Homo sapiens: one gene and its partner. The protein of the gene in region 1 purifies or fractionates together with the protein of each later gene. This does not show direct contact. Each region holds a gene or a part of one and is shown on either strand. Other genes may lie near its edges.

The links. The genes of interacting proteins can lie anywhere in the genome.
Region 2: the proteins of ADNP2 (region 1) and GDPGP1 purify together in Homo sapiens (affinity purification with mass spectrometry; one large-scale study listed by BioGRID and IntAct). This does not show direct contact.

What each region holds. Positions count from the first base shown.
Region 1 is NC_000018.10:80,115,762-80,119,261, forward strand, and holds part of ADNP2 (activity-dependent neuroprotector homeobox protein 2), read left to right. Parts: intron 1-1,768; 5' UTR 1,769-1,781; coding exon 1,782-1,889; intron 1,890-1,905; exon of another isoform or gene 1,906-1,924; intron 1,925-3,500. UniProt on the Homo sapiens protein: May be involved in transcriptional regulation. May play a role in neuronal function; perhaps involved in protection of brain tissues from oxidative stress. May be involved in erythroid differentiation.
Region 2 is NC_000015.10:90,237,209-90,240,708, forward strand, and holds part of GDPGP1 (GDP-D-glucose phosphorylase 1), read left to right. Parts: intron 1-1,283; 5' UTR 1,284-1,340; intron 1,341-3,500. UniProt on the Homo sapiens protein: Specific and highly efficient GDP-D-glucose phosphorylase regulating the levels of GDP-D-glucose in cells.

The DNA of each region.
Region 1 (3,500 bases):
CTGGCAGCCACTGTTGTGCTTTTTTTTTCTGGGGACGGAGTTTTGCTCTTACTGGTCAGGGTGGAGTGCAGTGGCGCGACCTCGGCTCACTGCAACCTCTGTCTCCCAGGGTCAAGCAATTCTCTTGCCTCAGCCTCCCGAGTAGCCGAGATTACAGGTGCCCAGCTAATTTTTTGTATTTTTAGTAGAGATGGGGCTTCACCATATTGGCCAGGCTGGTCTTGAACTCCTGACCTCAGGTGATCCACCCACCTTGGCCTCCCAAAGTGCTGGGATTACAGGTGTGAGCCACTGCACTCGGCCCACTGTTGTGCTTTCTATGGATTTGCCTGTTCTGGACACTTCACATAAATAGAATCATACAATATGTGGTCCTTGTGTCTGGCTTCTTTTACTTAGCATATTTCCAAAGTTTGTCCATATTGTAGCATGTATGTATTTCATTTCTTTTATGGCCAAATAATCTATTGTATGGATATGTCATATTTTATTTATCCAGTCATCAGTTTATTTATCAAATGCCCCAATGCAGGGGCATTTGGTTTGTTTACACATTTTGGTGACTGAATAGTGTTGTCATGAACATCCTTATATAAGTTTTTGGGTGGATGTATGCTTTTCTCTTGAGTGGAATTGCTGGTTCATATGTTACCTATATTTTTAATCTTTTGTGGGACAGCCAGACTGTTTTCAGGCACACATGAAGACTGGCTGCACTGGTATACATTACTATTAGGAATGTATGAGAGTTCCAATTTCTCCACGTCCTTGCCAACACGTTTCCTTTTTTTTTTCTTTATAGATATCCTGGTGGGCACAGTATCTCTTTGTGGTTTTAATTTGCATTTCTCCAAATGGCTAATGATGTTGAGCATTTTTTTTTGTTTTGTTTTAAGATAGGGTCTCACTCTGTTGCTCAGGCTGGAATATAGTGGCGTGATCAGACTCACTGCAGCCTTGACCTCCTGGGCTCGGGTGATCCCCTCACCTCAGCCTCCTGGATAGCTGGGACTACAGGTGCGCACCAGGATGCCTGGCTAATTTTTGTATTTTTTGTAGAGGCAGGGTTTCACCATGTTGCCCTGGCTGGTCTTCAACTCCTGAGCTCAAACAGTCTGCCTGATCTGTGTACCTCAGCCTCCTGAGCTGCTGGAATTACAGGCGTGAGCCACTGTTCCCTGCCTGAGCATCTTTTCATGTACCTTAGTGGACATTTTTCTTTGGAGAAGTGTCTATGATCCTTTGCCCATTTGTAAACTGGGTTATCTGTGTTTTAATTATTGAGATACAAGAGTTATCTGTATTCTGCATATAAGTTCCTTATTAGAAAGGAATAATGGTTTGCAAATATTTTCTCCCGTTTTGTGGGTTTTTTGCTTTTTTGATGGTGTCCTTTGAAGCATAAAAATTTTTAATTTTGGTGAAGTCCATACCTATTTTTTCTTTCATTACTGGTGCTTTTTGGTGTCCTATCTAGGAATTCCTTGCCGAATCTAAGGTCATCAATGTTTATGCTTACGTTTTCTTATAAGAGTTTTATAGTTTTAGGTCTTACATACAGGTGTGTGATCCACTTTTGAGTTAATTTTTGTATATGGTGTAAGGAAGAGGTCAACCTCATTCATTTGCATATGAATGTTCACTCGTTCTACAACAATTTGTTGAAAATTATACTCTATTCCTAGTGTTTTACCAACCCTGTCAAAAAATGTATTTTTGTGTATTATATACATGTACTTATTACAGTTTTGTTTTCTTTCCTTTTAAGGAAAATTTCAAAAATGTTTCAAATTCCTGTGGAAAATCTTGACAACATCAGAAAGGTGCGAAAAAAGGTGAAAGGTATTCTTGTGGATATTGGGCTTGACAGCTGCAAGGAGTTACTGAAGGTAAGAGGACGTAAGTAGCCAACTGGAATCTGGAGGTGAGATTTGAACTCGGGTTTTTGAAGAGTGGGTAAGATTCCTCAAAATGGAAATTGCTGTTATACTTCAGATGGCTGTGTGAAAGCCTCATTAGTACTTATTTATGTCTTTATGACATAAAGTGAGCTATTTAAGCTGTTCAGGTTTTTAAGCTACTTTAAGGAGGGGATTTTTCTAGTCATTAGTTACTAAAAAATTGTTTTTGATGTTTGAGGGAAATGTGATTTGTTATTTTAGCAAAAGAAAACTAACTTAATTTCCCAGTATTGTTAGAGCAATCAACAAATGGGCATGCATAAATGAAATGATAGGGTTTTTTTTAATCCTGATTTGTGTAGTTGTATATGTGATCTCAGAAAAGTTTTCCTAAAATTTTGTCTGTCCTTATAACATTGAGAATACATAGTTGGCATATATAGTTTTAAACAATGTTAAATAAAAGTTGTTGTATATCCTGGCCGGGCATGGTGGCTCACGCCTGTAATCTCAGCACTTTGGGAGGCTGAGGTGGATGGATCATTTGAGGTCAGGAGTTCGAGACCAGCCTGGCCAACAACATGGTGAAACCCTGTCTCTACTGAAAATACATAAATTAGCTGGGTGTGGTGGCGGGCGCCTGTAGTTGCAGCTACTCAGGAGGCTGAGACACAAGAATTGCTTGAACCTGGGTGGCAGAAGTTGCAGTGAGCCGAGATAGCACCACTGCACTCCAGCCTGGGTGACAGAGTGAGTGAGACTCTGTCTCAAAAAAAAAAAAAGTTCTTATATATCCTTGTAGTCATTGGTAATGACATTTTTGTCTCGTCTAATCATTTATAGCCTTGCTTTCCCCTTCATTAATAAATGTAGTCTAGGATCAGGTATGTATTTGGTTGTCATGTCTCTTTAGTCTCCTTTTGAGGTCAATTCAATCTTTTAAGGTGGAATTCTGTTAGGAAATTTGTTTTATTTTTAAGTAACATGTCAGTAACAACAAAAGTTTTTCATCCTAGAGTCCTTTGTTTTTGACTTGACTGGAACTGAACATTGCTCGTGAACTTTTGCTTCCTTAGCCTGAGAATGTGTTTACTCTTCTGAAGTTCTTCACGGCTGTTTACTTTTTTTTCCCAAGACTTTACTGATGCAGAGATACGGTACTTCACAAGGGAAAATTAAGAGATTTGAATGGCTTAAACTGTTAATTAGATTAACTGTTGAATTAGTAAAACTATTTTGGGGAGAAAATTTTATTTGTAATTGGGCCTATAATGAAATTTTTGAAAATTCAAGTAATACAGAAGTTTTTTATAGGAAAATGAGAAAACAGACACAGAAACAAGACAGTAAGACTCACGCGTAAACCATTACCCTGAAATATCCAGAATTAACGTTGTTATATATCTATAGATTTTTAAAAACGGGATATATTCACATTTTTTTTCTTAAAAGGATATAATCAAATTGTATAAGCTACTGCACCAGCTGTTGTTTCTTTTTCACTGAACCGCATAGTGAGAACCTTTTTCCATGTGAAGTGCGTTTATTCTTAATCCACCACAGCAATTAGAGTTCTTTGTTTTCAAGCAGCAGAAACCA
Region 2 (3,500 bases), on another chromosome or scaffold:
TTGGCCCCCCAGAGTGCTGGGATTACAGGCGTGAGCCACCGTGCCCGGACTTTATTGTAATTTTCTTTTTTTCCCTTTTTTTTTTTTTTTTTGAGATGGAGTCTTGCTCTGTCACCAGGCTGGAATGCAGTGGCACCACCTCAGTTCACCACAACCTCCACCTCCCAGGTTCAAGTGATTCTCCTGCCTCAGCCTCCCAAGTAGCTGGGACTACAGGTGTGTGCCCACCACCACGCCCAGCTAATTTTTGTATTTTTAGTAGACACAGGGTTTCACCATGTTGGCCAGGATGGTCTCGGTATCTTGACCTCGTGATTCACCTGCGTCAGCCTCCCAATGTGCTGGTCCAGGGATTACAGGTGTGAGCCACCGCACCCAGCCCCTCATTGTGATTTTGATTTGCCTTTTCTTATTGATTAATGACGTTAAACATCCCAAATGTGCTTGTTGGCCATCTTTATATCTTATTTGAAAAAATGTCTAAGATTATCTCTTTTTTTTCTCCTTTTTTTGGTTTTGTATTATTTTTATTATCTCATTTTAAATTTTTTCGCCTGTCAGATAAGATTCTCTTTTATTAGAATAAGATACTACATTAGTCAGGCCTGGTGCAAGTGCCTGTGGTCCCAGCTACTTGGGAGGCTGAGGTGGATGGATTGCTTGAGTCTGGGAGGCAGACATTGCAGTAAGGTGAGAATAAGATACTACATTTGATCATCAAAATTATGCTTAGCTTCACTTTTTTGTTGTTGTTGTCTTTTACCTTGCAGCTCCAGCTCAAAGGATTAGCTTCACTTTTAAACATTTTTGGCCAGGTGCGGTGGCTCACGCCTGTAATCCCAGCACTTTGGGAGGCCAACGCAGGTGGATCACCTGAGGTCAGGAGTTCGAGACCAGCCTGGCCAACATGGTGAAACCTGGTCTTTCCTAAAAATACAAACATTAGCCGGGCGTGGTGACACACACCTGTAGTCCCAGCTACTCAGGAGGCTGAGGCATGAAAATCACTTGAACCTGGGTGGTGGAGGTTGCAGTGAGCCAAGATCGTGCCACTGCACTGCAGCCTGGCTGACAGAGTGAGATTCTGTCTTTAAAAAAAAAATTGACCATCTGAACCATTTCTAAGTGTATAGTCGTGTTAAGCACATTCACGATGTTGTGCGGCAAATCTCCAGGACGTTTTCATCTTGCAAACTAAGCCTCAATACTCATTAAACTTAGCTTGACTTTTGATATGTAATTTTTTATATGTTTTGTTTCCTTTCTGTTTTATTAACATGAAGTTTCTGGAGCAGCAGAGCTGAAGGAACCCAAACTTGGACTGAAGTGACTCTACTAAGGTAATGCCTCCTTTTGACATCCTATCTGGGCCAGTGGCAGACCCCTCTCCCTGACAGTGCTGGGTCCAGGGCTCCAGGCAGCCAGGGGAAGATGAAGACAGGCACTAATTTCCCCCTTGAAAGGTTGGCCCTGGACACTTACCCACACATCAGTGCCATCCTCACCCAAATGTTTCTATGCATGACCAATTGGAATCACTATGGAACATGGAAAAGCTTTTCCCACAAAAGAAGTGGTCATCTTTGAAACCCTGAGCACTCTCATGCACTGGAACTCAGGTATGATTTTCTGGAGGGCAGTTTGATGGTGTGTATAAAAAATCTGAGCCATGGGAATTTGAGACCACCTGAACAGCATAGCAAGGCTCTGTCTCTACCAAAAACAAAACAAAACAAAATAAAACCAAAACCTGAGCCATGGACCTACTCTGACCCAGTGGTATACCAGGATTTTATTTTAAAGGAAAATAAAAACATGACATGTTCAATGATGAGTGTGTGAGTGTATAGGATGTTCATTGCCACATTGTGTATAATAGAATGAAACTAGCTACAACCTATATAAACAGTTGAAGATTGGTTAAAAAGTCAAGATCCATCTATGTATGAAAATGAAGCTAAACATAAATTGTGATTTTTCCTTAGGCATTATAACAAAGGGTTATATTTTATCTTTATTGTTTCTCCATTAAAAAAATTTACTCGATATATATAATTTTTAGAAAGAAAAAATAGTTGATCTATATGAGACATAAAATGTGTGTGTGTGTGTGTGTGTGTGTGTGTGTGTGTATTAGTCTGTTCTCACACTGCTGTGAAGAAATACCCAAGACTGGGTAATTTATAAAGGAAAGAGGTTTTATTGACTCACAGTTCTGCAAGGGTGGACAGGCCTCAGGAAACTTACAATCATGACAGAAGGGGAAGCAAACACATCCTTCTTCACATGGCAGCAGCAGGGAGATGTGCAGAGCAAAGAGGGAGGTAAAGCCTCTTATAAAACCATCAGATCTCAGGAGAACTCACTATCACGAGAACAGCATGGAGGTGACCGCCCCCATGATTCATTTACTTTCCACCGGGCCCCTCCCACAACAAGTGGGGATTATAGGAACCACAAGATGAAATTTGGGTGGAGACATAGCCAAACCATATCTATCTATCTATCTATTTTTTTGAGACAGAGTTTCACTCTTATTGTCCAGGCTGGACTGCAATGGTGCGATCTCGGCAGTGCCTGGTGGCACATGCCTGTAGTTCCAGATACTTGGGATGCTGAGGTGAAAGAATCCCTTGAGCCTGGGAGGTCAAGGCTTCAGGGAGACATGTATGCACCACTGCACTCCTGCCTGGGTGACAGAGTGAGAACCTGTTTCAAAATAAAATAGGCCGTGGCTGGGCGCAGTGGCTCACACCTGTAATCCCAGCACTTTGGGAAGCCGAGGTGGGTGGATCACCTGAGGTCAGGAGTTCAAGACCAGCCAGACCAACATGGTGAAACCCTGTCTCTACCAAAAATACAAAATTAGCTGGCTGTGGTGGCACATTCCTATAATCCCAGCTACTTGGGAGGCTGAGGCCAGAGAATCGCTTGAACCTGGGAGGTAGAGGTTGCAGTGAGCCAAGATAGCGCCATTGCACTCCAGCCTGGGTGACAGAGTGATAAATAAATAAATAGGCCAGGTGCAGTGGCTCAGGCCTGTAATCCCAGCACTTTGGGAAGCCGAGAGGGGAGGGTCACCGGAGGTCAGGAGTTCAAGACCGGCCTGGCCAATGTGGTGAAACCCTGCCTCTACTAAAAATACAAAAATTAGCCGGGCCTGGTGGCGGGTGCCTGTAATTCCAGCTGCTTGGGAGGCTGAGGCATGAGAATCACTTGAACCCAGGAGGTGGAGGTTGCAGTGAGCCAAGATCGCGCCACTGCCCTCTAGCCTGGGCAACAGAGTGAGACTCTGTCTCAAAAAAATAAAAATAAATAAATAAGCTGTGCATGTTGGTTCATGCCTGTAATCCCAGCACTTTGGGAGGCCAAGGCAAAGGGATCACCCGATGTCAGGAGTTCAAGACCAGCCTGGCCAACATGGTGAAACACCATCTCTACTAAAAATACAAAAATTACCCGGGCATGGTGGTGCCTGCCTGTAACCCCAGCTGCCCAGG